Linked DNA regions of Homo sapiens: all the other regions are linked to region 4. The links come from fine-mapping of genetic effects on gene expression. A gene starts in region 4. Each other region holds a variant in brackets. All regions are shown on one strand. Distances are between the middles of the regions.

Region 1 (2,683 bases), 86 kb before region 4:
AGTAACAGCTTCAGGGGAGGCTTTCTTCCCATGCCTAGATGGAGCAGAAGCTCACACTGTGCACCCAGCAATGAACTGGGACCCTTTTGGAGGCACCTGACTCGGGCTTCTGGATTCTGTCAGGAGGCAGATGTGCCATTACCAAGAGGCCAGGCATTAGAAAGTGCTCAGCACGGTTCTCGCAGGGCAAAGGCAGCCCCCTGCTCAACTCACTCATACCTGAGGAGATGTGAAGCAAAGGTCACGGAAGGCCCAAGGTACTCCTGGCACCCCTAGACCCCAAAATACAAAGGACCAACAGCGCCATCAGGCACACACTCTCTCTCTCTGCCCCTTGGTCTCCCTCTGTCTCTTCAACTCTATATCTCTGTCTCTCTTTGTGTCTCTACCTCTTTCTCTCTGTCTCTCTGTTTCTATCTCTTGGCCTCTCTCTGTTTCTGTCTCTATATATTTCTCTCTGTATCTGTCTCTATCTCTCTGTCTGTGTCTCTATTTCTCTCTCTCTGCATCTCCGTCTCTCTCTCTCCACATCTGTATCTCTGCCTCTCCCTCTGTGTCTCTATCTTTCTCTCTGTCTCTATCTCCTCCCAGGGCGGAGGAGCTCAGCTGCTAATATTCTGGAAGCTTGTAGTTCAGAATCTATCAGAATGTTGGTGGGGAGCCCTCCGTGTTGATATCTGGCTGGAGCAGGCATTGCAGGCAAAGATGAGTTTTCTGCAGCCCTCTCTCTGTCTCTGTTTCTGTCTCTGTCTATCTCTTTCTCTGTCTCTTTCTATCTCTGTCTCCATCTCTCTTATCCCTCTGTGCCTTTCTGTCTCTGTCTCTATCTCTGTCTCTTTGTCTCTGTCTCTATTTCTGTTTCTGTCTATCTCTGTCTCTCTTTCTGTCTCTCTGTCTCTGTCTCTCTCTGTCCCTGTCTCTCTGTCTGTCTTTCAGTCTCTGTCACTGTCTCTCATATGCTCAAGGGTATTTATGCTACGTGGGCATTTGCAAGGAGCTTTTGAGTCTGAGTTATCATCTGGGATTTCTATCAGGCTCCATCTGCTTCCAGAACTGTGT[A/G]CAAACAGTAACATCCAAAGCTCAGAAAAGGGAGGACATAAAACATTTTCATTTGTTCTGACCAGAAAAGCCATATGATCTAGAATGTGTGAAAGAAAGTCAGAAAAAATAAGGGAAAACAGATTGTCAGTGCTGGTCATAGCCCACAAGAGTCTCTCAGACCCAAACAATGTGGCCCAGACGTACATAAAACAAGCCCACAACATATGCCTGTGTCCAACAGCACAGCTTTCTGAGCCACTCCTCCTTGTCTACTGGAAGAGCAAATGAACCTGGTTGAAATCCTGGCTCTACAGCTTTCTACTATGTCATCTTGAGCAAATTCTTAACTTTTCTGAGCCTCAGTTCCCTCCACTGCAAAATAGGACTAGTAATTTCTACTATGTAGGAGTATCATGAAGATTAAACCCTTTAAAAACCTCTAGCATGGTGTCTACCACGTCACAAGGGTTCAGTAAATGGTAATGGTGGTGATGGCTGTTGTGGTGTGGTGATGGTGGCAAAGATGATGGCACTGAAGGTGGTAATGAGAGTGAAGGTGGTAATGGTGGCAGTGGTGGTGGTAGAGGGATGTGGTGATGGGAACTATGGAAGAGGAGATTAAGATGGTGCTGGTGGAGGTGGTAGTTGCAGTAGCAGCATCAGCATTTTAGGAAGACCAGGCATATCAGTGACAAACTGCTCCTGCTTGTCAGATGCATTTCTCCCTAAAAGACTTCCAGAATCACCATTATGCATTCCAATCCTGCTATGATTGGATATTTGACCCTCCAAACCTCATGTTGAAATTTCATCCCCGATCTTGAAGGTGGAGCCTAGTAGGAGCTGTTCGATCACAGGGGTGGATCTCTCATGAACAGCATGTGCTATCCTCATAGTAACAAGGGAGAGTTCCTGCTCTATTAGGCCCCAAAAGAGTCCCCTTGAGAGCTGGTTGTTAAAACAAGCCTGGCACCTTTTCCCTTGCTCTTGCTTCCTCTCTCATCATGTGATCTGCACACACCAGCTCCCCCTTCACCTTCTGCCTTGAGTGGAAGCTTCCTGAGGCCCTCGCCAGAAGCAGATGCCTATGCTACGCTTCTTGTACAGCCTGCAGAACCGTGAGCCAAATAAACCTCTTTTCTTCATAAATTACCCAGCTTCAAGTTGAACAATGAGAACACATGGACACAGGGAGGGGAACATCACACACTGGGCCTTGTCAGGGGGTGGGGGGCATGGGGAGGGAGAGCATTAGGAAAAATACCAAATGCATGCAGGGCTTAAAAGCTAGATGATGGGTTGATGGGTGCAGCAAACATGGCACATGTATACCTATGTAACAAACCTGCACGTTCTGCACATATATCCCAGAACTTAAAGTAAAATAATTTTTTAAACAAATCACCCAGCTTCAGGTATTCCTTTATAGCAACACAAACAGACTAAGACAAATCCCTTCAGCCTGATTCAGACAATAGCTGGTTATGAGTCATTTCAACACAGCAAACGTTGAGCCAGGTCTGGGCTAAGGCCTGGGAGTGCCATCATGAAAAAAACATGTGCATTCTTTCGCCTTTCTCTTGACTCTTTCACTTCCTGCCTCCTAAGTACTCAGCTTTCCAAGCACAGAGAGGCTTTTTTA
Region 2 (2,683 bases), 160 kb before region 4:
AAACTCGCCTTGTGGCTTAAGCTCTCCTGTTGCCCTAAAGATGGAATGCAAGCACCTCACACTGATACACAGGGCCCTTTTAATCCCAACCTTGCCTGCCTCTTTTCTGTTACCAAAGTCCACTCTTCCATCCACAACTCTGCCTTGCATGTACTGTCGCTGTTCTCACTTTTTTTTTTTTTTTGAGATGGAGTCTCGCTCTGTTGTCCAGGCTGGAGTGCAGTGGCGCGATCTCGGCTCACTGCAAGCTCCGCCTCCCGGGTCCACGCCATTCTCCTGCCTCAGCCTTCCCAGTAGCTGGGACTACAGGCACCCGCCACCACGCCCGGCTAATTTTTTGTATTTTTAGTAGAGACGGGGTTTCACTGTGTTAGCCAGGATGGTCTTGATCTCCTGACCTCGTGATCTGCCTGCCTTGGCCTCCCAAAGTGCTGGGATTACAGGCGTGAGCCACCACACCCGGCCCTCTCACTTTTAAGATTCCCTTGTTTCTCTTCTTCAGCCTGTAAATGTGAAGATTCTTTCAAGTGTCACTTCGCTTGTGAGTATTTGGGGTGTCTTTTTTTTTTTTCTTAGAGTCTTGCTCTGTCACCCAGGCTGGAGTGTAGTGGCTCGATCTTGGCTCACTGCAACCTCCGCCTCCTGGGTTCAAGCGATTCTCCTGCCTCAGCCTCCCAAGTAACTGGGATTCCAGGTGCACACCACTATACCCGGCTAATTTTTGTATTTTTAGTAGAGACGGGGTTTCACCATGTTGGCCAGGCTGGCCTTGAACTCCTGACCTCAGGTGATCCACCAGCCTTGGCCTCCCAAAGTGCTGGGATTACAGGCATGAGCCACCGTGCCCGGCTTGGGGTGTCTTTTCAACTCAGTACAGCATTGATATTTGCACATTTAACCAATGTGGTTTCTACTTTGGGAAATAAATCCTCATGGCCCAGAACATGTTACTGTTATTATATCACTAAGTAGTGCCTAGTTAGAAGAAGAGATACTCACCTGTTCATGTTACAGGTGCAGAAGCTAAGCCTTCATCAATGCCAGTGCCAGACACACATTAAAGGCGGCAAAACATTTTGTTCAGTCTACTGCCTTAGAGGAAAGAGACTCCAATATAACTGAGCTCAAAT[C/T]CAGCTAGGACAAAGGTATGGAGGTTTCTAAAGGGAGAACAGAGAGGGAACTAAAAGGGATTATGGGGAAGTGAAAGGAGGGAATAAAAAAAAAACAGACTAGAGGGGCTATGGGGAAATGGAAAATTACATAAAGGGGGATGGGTGGAAAATTACTAAAAATTATTTGGCAAGACAACAGTATCTGTTGGGCAATAGAGATTCTGCAGCTTGACAGCATTGCAATTTTTTGAGCCCAAACGCAGCACCAGGCTGGGGTCAGTAGCCCTCAGAATCACGGCGAGTGCAGGTGGAAGCCAGGATAAAGTTAAGACAAGCCTCCCAGTGTGGCGTTCAGGCAACTGCTTTGTGCCACGTGGGACATGCTTAGGTAACCTGCATGTGGCTGAACGATCGACCGGTGTCAAAGCCTAGGTTTAAACACAAGTCGGCCTGACCACAATGTCTGAAGTCAACCCCCGTGTTACTTAGGTCGGCATTTGTAATGTTGCTGAGGTGTGGCGTGAGCCCCATGGAAGGCTTGTGAGCGGGAGGGAGTCATTTCACTAGTGAGGCTGCCCCACCGCCCTCAGCTTCATGGTTACCTCTGGTCCTGAGGTAACAGGAAGTCTTGTGAAGAAGAGCACTTTGTAGAAATTTGCCAGTTGAGACTCCAAAAAAACAGCCTGGTGAAATAGGTGAGTGATTACTTTGAGATGGAAGAATATGCAAGAACTACTTGCTTCTTGATGGGAATGTAATTTAGGAAAAAGGCAAAACATTCATTTCACAAACATGGAAACTTTCGTAAGTTTCTGGAAGTTTCTAGAAGTCCTCTCAACCTTCACTGAGATACAGTGAACTCTTTGAATGGGTTTTGGCAAAAAAGAAAGAAAAGCAAGTGTCATTGTTTCCATATGAACATCAGCCGTGAGACACTCCATTGTAAGGCACACTTTCAGCAAAAAGAGACATTAGCAACACTCCTCTCTGTGGCAGAGAACAACAGGTTGTAAAACTTAAGTCCCCCTCAGAGTCTAATTTAGATAATTATAGTTTGCCTCCTAGGACTCTCCCTGAGGATCCAGCTGGCTTTGGCTGTCATCATTACTGCTATTCTTCTAAATTACTGGGCAGGGCAGGATGACGAGGCTGCGCCTGACGCAGGGAGAGCCTAGGAGGAAAGGTGTTCCTCCATCAGCGGCTCGTCCCTGTCTGACAAAAACCATTATTTTGTACAGAGCACAACGCACCCACACTCGGTGTAACAGAAGCAGAAAAATCAGCAAGGGTTTTATGTGGTTTTTCCTGTCGCTCGGCCTTTCCAAAATGAGACAGACCTCCTGCACTCTCCTGGAACCTTACATGCTCCTTCGCAATAGACCTGATTCAGGAACACCAGCTGAGCTGACTCGGAAGCCACATCACATAGAAGCTAAGAACACCTTGTCAAAGCCCGACTGTGTGGGTTCCTATCCTGGTTCTGCCACTCTGGGGTGTGTGATGTGGACCAAACTCTTCTCCCTTCGTGTGCCAGAGAGTCCTCGTCTGTGACATGGGGATAATAGCAATGC
Region 3 (2,683 bases), 160 kb before region 4:
TTAGACAATCAATCTAACCGTCAGTGAAATCTACTCATTATTGGATTCTGCCCAGCCTTCCTTGGATGGGAGTTGCAGCCTGATAGCAAAAAGAAATGAACTAGACCTGAGAAGGACAGGGCCAAGGCCAAGATGAACCCAGGGAGCCGGCGTCCAAGTTGGAAGAGGAAGGTGTGCGTACTTTGAGTTCAAGGGCGGGCGTCCAAGGCTGCCCAGATTCCGCACGCATCTGCACCCTGCCTTTCAGTTAACACAGCGGAGAGAGTGAGGCAAACACCTCCAGACAGTACCCTCCAGCATAGAGAGGAGCCTCCTTACAATGGGAATGGGCAGCTCCGAGCCCCTGCTGTCCAGGGCAGGAGCTCTGGGTACAGAAGCCATCAAGACCTGCACAACCACAGAGAGAAGCCACCAGATCCCCACCGCCACCCCGCAGGCAGTGTGGGGGCTGCGCCTAGTGCTGCCTCAGCCGGATCTCCTCTGCCCCACTCGGCGCAAGAAGAGAACCCACAGGTGTGGGAGGAGAGGGCCGCAGACCCACCCCTCCCAACACCAGACTCAGCTCAGTGCCCTCTGGCACCTAGAAAAGTGCCCAGCATACACTGGCCATGCAGCAAATAGTGGCAAGGAAGGGCAGATTCCAACATCCTGGTCCTCTGCGTGGTCTTGGACAACAGGCTTTACCTCTCTGAGTCTCAGTCCCCGCTCTAAAAACTGTCATGATGATGATAATATCTGCCCGAGTGTAAGAAGAGACGGAATGGCAAATGCATGGAAAACCACTCAGGCGACTGGAAACACTCCACAAAGCAAAGGATTAAAGATTAGAAAACTGTCTCCTCCACATGCGAACCTGAGGACCTTAAGTTAAGGGAAATAAGCCAAGCACAGAAACACAAACACCGCGTGATCTCACTTACATGTGGAATCTAAAAAGCTGAAGGCATGAAAGTACAGCGCAGGATGGTGGTTACGAGGGGCTGCCGGGAGGGAGAGGTTTGGAGAGATGTTGGTTAAAGGGTACAAAATTTCTATTAGGAATAATAAAAATAAAATTTCTATTAGGAATAATAAAAATAAAATTTCTATTAGGAATAATAAAAATAAAATTTCTATTAGGAGCAAAAAGTTCAACAGTTCTATTGCACAACATGGTGACTATATTAATAACAACGTATTTTACTCCTGAAAATTGCTAAGAGAGTAGATATTAAGTCTCACCATAAAAATATGATGTGCATGTGAGGTAATGCCTATCTTAAGGGGCTCAGTGGAGCCACTCCACAATGTATACATATTTTAAAGCAACATGTATGCAATAAA[C/T]ATATACAATTTTTTGTCAACTAAAACATTTTTTAAAAAAGAAAATTATCTCCTCATTCCTCTCAAATATGCCCAGATAATATTCTGTGGCCAAACAAGTAAAATTCTGTTTCCTCACTTTCATCTCTTAAACTGACCACAATCTGGGCTCATCATCATCATTATTATTATTATTATTTTTGGAGACAGAATCTCACTCTGTTGCCCAGGCTGGAGTGCAGTGGCGCTATCTCGGTTCACTGCAACCTCTGCCTCTCAGGTTCAAGCAATTCTCGTGCCTCAGCCTCCTGAGTAGCTGGGATTACAAGTGCCCACAACTACACCTGACTAATTTGGCTAATTTTTTATATTTTAGTAGAGACAGGGTTTCACCATGTTGCCCAGGCTGGTCTCAAACTCCTGACCTCCGGTGATCCACCCACCTCAGCCTCCCAAAGGGTTGGGATTACAGGCGTTAGCCACTGCGCCTGGCCTGGGCTAATAATTAACATACACACATCTCAGACAAACACGCACTCAGACACACACACACACACACACACACACACACACACATTCTCTCTCTCTCCCTCTCTTTGCCACCTCGCTCACACACACACACACACACAATTCTCTCTCTCCATCTCTTTGCCACCTTGCACACACACACACACACACACATTCTCTCTCCCTATCTCTTTGCCACCTCGCTCACACGCACACACACACACATTCTCTCTCTCCCTATCTTTGCCACGTCGCTCACACACACACACACACACACACACATTCTCTCTCTCTCTCCGTCTCTATCTCTTTGCCACCACACACACACACACACATTCTCTCTCTCCCTCTCTCTTTGCCACCTCGCTCACACACACACACACACACACATTCTCTCTCTCTCCATCTCTTTGCCACCTTGCTCACACACACACACACATTCTCTATCTCTTTGCCACCTCACTCACACACACACACACATTCTCTCTCTCCATCTCTTTGCCACCTCGCTCTCACACACACACACACACATTCTCTCTCTCCCTATCTCTTTGCCACCTCGCTCACACACACACACACACACTCTCCCTTTCTCTTTGCCACCTCGCTCACACACACACACACACATTCTCTCTCTCCCTTTCTCTTTGCCACCTCGCTCACACACACACACACCCATTCTCTCTCTCCCTTTCTCTTTGCCACCTCACTCACACACACACACACACACACACATTCTCTCTCCCTCTCTTTCTATCTCTTTGCCACCTCACACACACAAACACACACACATTCTCTCCCTCTCTCTTTGCCACCTCGCTCACACATACACACATTCTCTCTCCCTCTCTGCCACCTCGCTCACACACACACA
Region 4 (2,683 bases):
GGTCAGAGCTAATTCTAGAAACCCATCCCCAATCCCTTCCTGCTAAACCACTTAATTTTATTTATATCCCAGCTATAGATTATACAAATACACTTGACAAATAAAACGGAGAATATTGAGTTAAAACCACATCTCTGAAGACCACACGCATAAATAACGATCGTGTTTTAATGCGGACGATACCTTTTCATTTTGCAAATCCAGAGTTCTCATCATATCAAAATTCAAGACAGTTTGTTCTGTAAGAAGGGGAAGGTCATAACCCTGTCTAGAATGTACTGGCAAATCTCTCTAACCGTGCAGTGCTAATTTGGGCCTGAGCTGTGTAACCAGACCGACTTCACGCTCCAGCTGGGGTTTCAGATCCACACATGGCGATTGGGTGGCTCTTTGCTGTTTCACAGCAAGGGTCCTTCCCTGGGCTCCCGGAGCCTCTGGGGATTTACTGCTCCCGACGTGGCCGTGTTCAAGCCACTGTGTGCATGCGCTTAATGTTGAAAACATTCTTTTGAAAAGCCCAGGAGATTCCACTCGCAATCTGTGCGTGTGCATGTAAAAGCGCAGAGACTGGAAAGAACCGCGGCAGAGCACACCCTGACCGAAGGTTACCGCGGGGGAGCCGCGGCCGTGGGAGAGCCGCGGCCGTGGGAGGGAGTGCGATACGGTCTTTTCACTCTAGACACTCCTGAGTTATGTACAATTCTACGCAAGAATGTATGCGTGTGTTAGCATGTAATACATATGTATTAGTTTTTTCAGGAAGATTCTTAAACAACAACAAAATCTCTATAGAACAAAGGTGCGTCTCCGCAGAGCGCAACAGCATTTGTCTTGGATGTAACCGCCTTCTCCAGAAATCTCAGAGGAACTCCCCTCGACCACCGCCTAACTGAAGGACACCGTGCGCTCCACCGCAACCCTGCGGGCGATTCGGAAAGTTGGAGGCGCCCCGGGGAGTCGCCGCACTTGCCGCCCGCGCCCCCTAACCTGAGCATTCAAGGAGTCTTGACTTGGCCGCTGGCGCACTCCGCACCCACCCAGCCGGTGCTGATGCGGGAGGGTGGGGCCGCGGCGGGGCGGGGCAACGCGAGCCCGCACCCCGCTCCTCCCCGCCCCTCCCTGCCGGCCCCGCCCGCGCGCGCCCCCCGCCCGCGGCCCGGGCGCCCGGCCCGCCCCCTCCCCTCGGCGCGCAAACGAACCTCGCGACGCCGCGCTCGGCGGCGGGCGGGGGCCGGGCGAGGGAGGGGGCTGGTCCCGGCCGCCCCACTCTGCAGTTGTCTCCCGAGCGCTGGCTGCGCCGCCCGAGCCGCTGGGCCGGGGAAGCACTGGCCGTTCGCTCCCGGGCCGGCTCCGCCAGGCGCTCGCAGGCATGCAGCCCGGGAGCAGGAGGCGCTCCCCGGGCCGCTGCTGAGCCGGCCGGGGCGGCGGGGACCAGCGCCAGCGGAGCCCCTCCCACCTTGCCCCGGGGCAGACGAGCGGCGCCCCGACACCCCCTCTTCTCCCGCAGCCCCGCCAGCGCCACCCCCCGCGGGCCGCAGGGGCTCATGCAGCCGCCAAGGTAAGCGCGGGTCGGGAGCCGGGCAGACCCGGCTCTGACATCTCCGAGGCGCCGCCGACACATGCCGGGGCCACGGCGCTGCTTTGGTCTTCCTTAGCCCCGCGTCTCATCTTGCTCCCATCTTGCCCACATTTGGAGCTTTGCTGCGCCTCTATCGCTTTAGCTGTTGGCAGCAGGAAAGTTTTTGTGGTTTGGTGTTTGTTCTTTTTTCCTAAAATACTCTCCCCCGGGCAGCCGCCAGCGCGCGTGGTTGGGCAGACCCGGCACACGTCCCTTACACCGTGTGCGGGCTGGGAGCTCCTTCCCTCAGCCCGGCTCGCGGAGCCCCGGACGGAGCCGGCCACCCGACTGTCCCGCCGTGAACCCCCATTGGCCCGCGCCGCCCGGGCCCCCGCCTCCCGCTCGACGCCCGGCTGCGGAGCTGCCTGGCCATCTCCTGCCCTCGGGGATGTCGGCGCAGTGCACCGCGTGGGCTCGCGTCCCGGCGGCCCTTTGCCTCGGCGCGCCGGCGTACGGGAAGGTGCGGACCTTGGATTGAGGGCCGAGGATGCCCATTGCCAAGCCGCCCCGGCTTTCCTAAGTGGACGGGAGGGCACGGCGACGATTCAGCGCCGGCTCGCGCCGCAGCTCAACCCAGGGTACAAGCCCGGGCATGGGGGACAGGTGTATTCAATGGGAGGGCGGGTGTGGGGGACGCTCGGGTGCAATTCGGGATTGCGTCTTATTAATGTAATTGTATTAGACTTGCTCGGAGGTAGAATCAGTTCTCCCAAATTGAGATTTCTAATGGGAGCCTGTGAGCTGCTATTATGTGGTGTGGTTTTGGGAGGTGTTGGGTTGTATTTATTTTATAAATTGGGTGTCTCGCGGGCGGAGTAGGGGAAGTAGCGCCATCTAGCGGAAGTGGTGAGCTGTGCATTCCTCTTAGGCTGCGAAGTTGTTGGGTGTTCTCAAAGTAGTCTCCCGCACAAGGTGGAGAGGCGGGAACCAGCCCTCGCCTCCAGGAAGGAGGCTACAGAAGCTCTCTGAGTATCGACGGTACCAGGGAGAACCCCGACCTCCCATGCTCAGCACATTGAGCTCAGGGGACGAAATTGCGGGTCGTGTTGAGTGGCATGCTGTCAC

Alleles and levels. Positions count from the first base shown, and alleles are read on the strand shown. Sizes are in standard deviations (SD) of each study's normalised expression. Not every link is listed here.
As copies of A replace G in region 1, the expression in prefrontal cortex of the gene that starts at base 1,266 in region 4 goes up (small effect, 0.34 SD a copy in GTEx).

Evidence for each region. PIP is the estimated chance that this variant, and not a neighbour inherited with it, causes the effect.
Region 1: its variant is fine-mapped to the expression of RGMA in prefrontal cortex (GTEx, PIP 0.95).
Region 2: its variant is fine-mapped to the expression of RGMA in blood mononuclear cells (TOPMed, PIP above 0.99). The same link has a PIP of 0.9 or more in monocytes.
Region 3: its variant is fine-mapped to the expression of RGMA in blood mononuclear cells (TOPMed, PIP above 0.99).

Annotation. Positions count from the first base shown.
Region 1 is chr15:93,173,502-93,176,184 of GRCh38, reverse strand. No RefSeq gene overlaps it. Among named protein-coding and RNA genes, the nearest start is that of RGMA, 86 kb to the right of the region's middle. The variant A/G (reference allele first, on the strand shown) is at 1,060.
Region 2 is chr15:93,246,528-93,249,210 of GRCh38, reverse strand. The region is part of intron 4 of LOC105370982 (a long non-coding RNA gene); the gene reads right to left. Among named protein-coding and RNA genes, the nearest start is that of RGMA, 160 kb to the right of the region's middle. The variant C/T (reference allele first, on the strand shown) is at 1,131.
Region 3 is chr15:93,242,977-93,245,659 of GRCh38, reverse strand. The region is part of intron 4 of LOC105370982 (a long non-coding RNA gene); the gene reads right to left. Among named protein-coding and RNA genes, the nearest start is that of RGMA, 160 kb to the right of the region's middle. RefSeq lists enhancers at 1-386, 387-896. The variant C/T (reference allele first, on the strand shown) is at 1,324.
Region 4 is chr15:93,087,794-93,090,476 of GRCh38, reverse strand. It overlaps RGMA (repulsive guidance molecule BMP co-receptor a), which reads left to right and starts at 1,266. Exons shown (of 4, transcript NM_020211.3): 1 at 1,266-1,558. The coding sequence starts at 1,545. It overlaps LOC101927025 (a long non-coding RNA gene), which reads right to left and starts at 1,263. Exons shown (of 5, transcript XR_007064769.1): 1 at 1,200-1,263.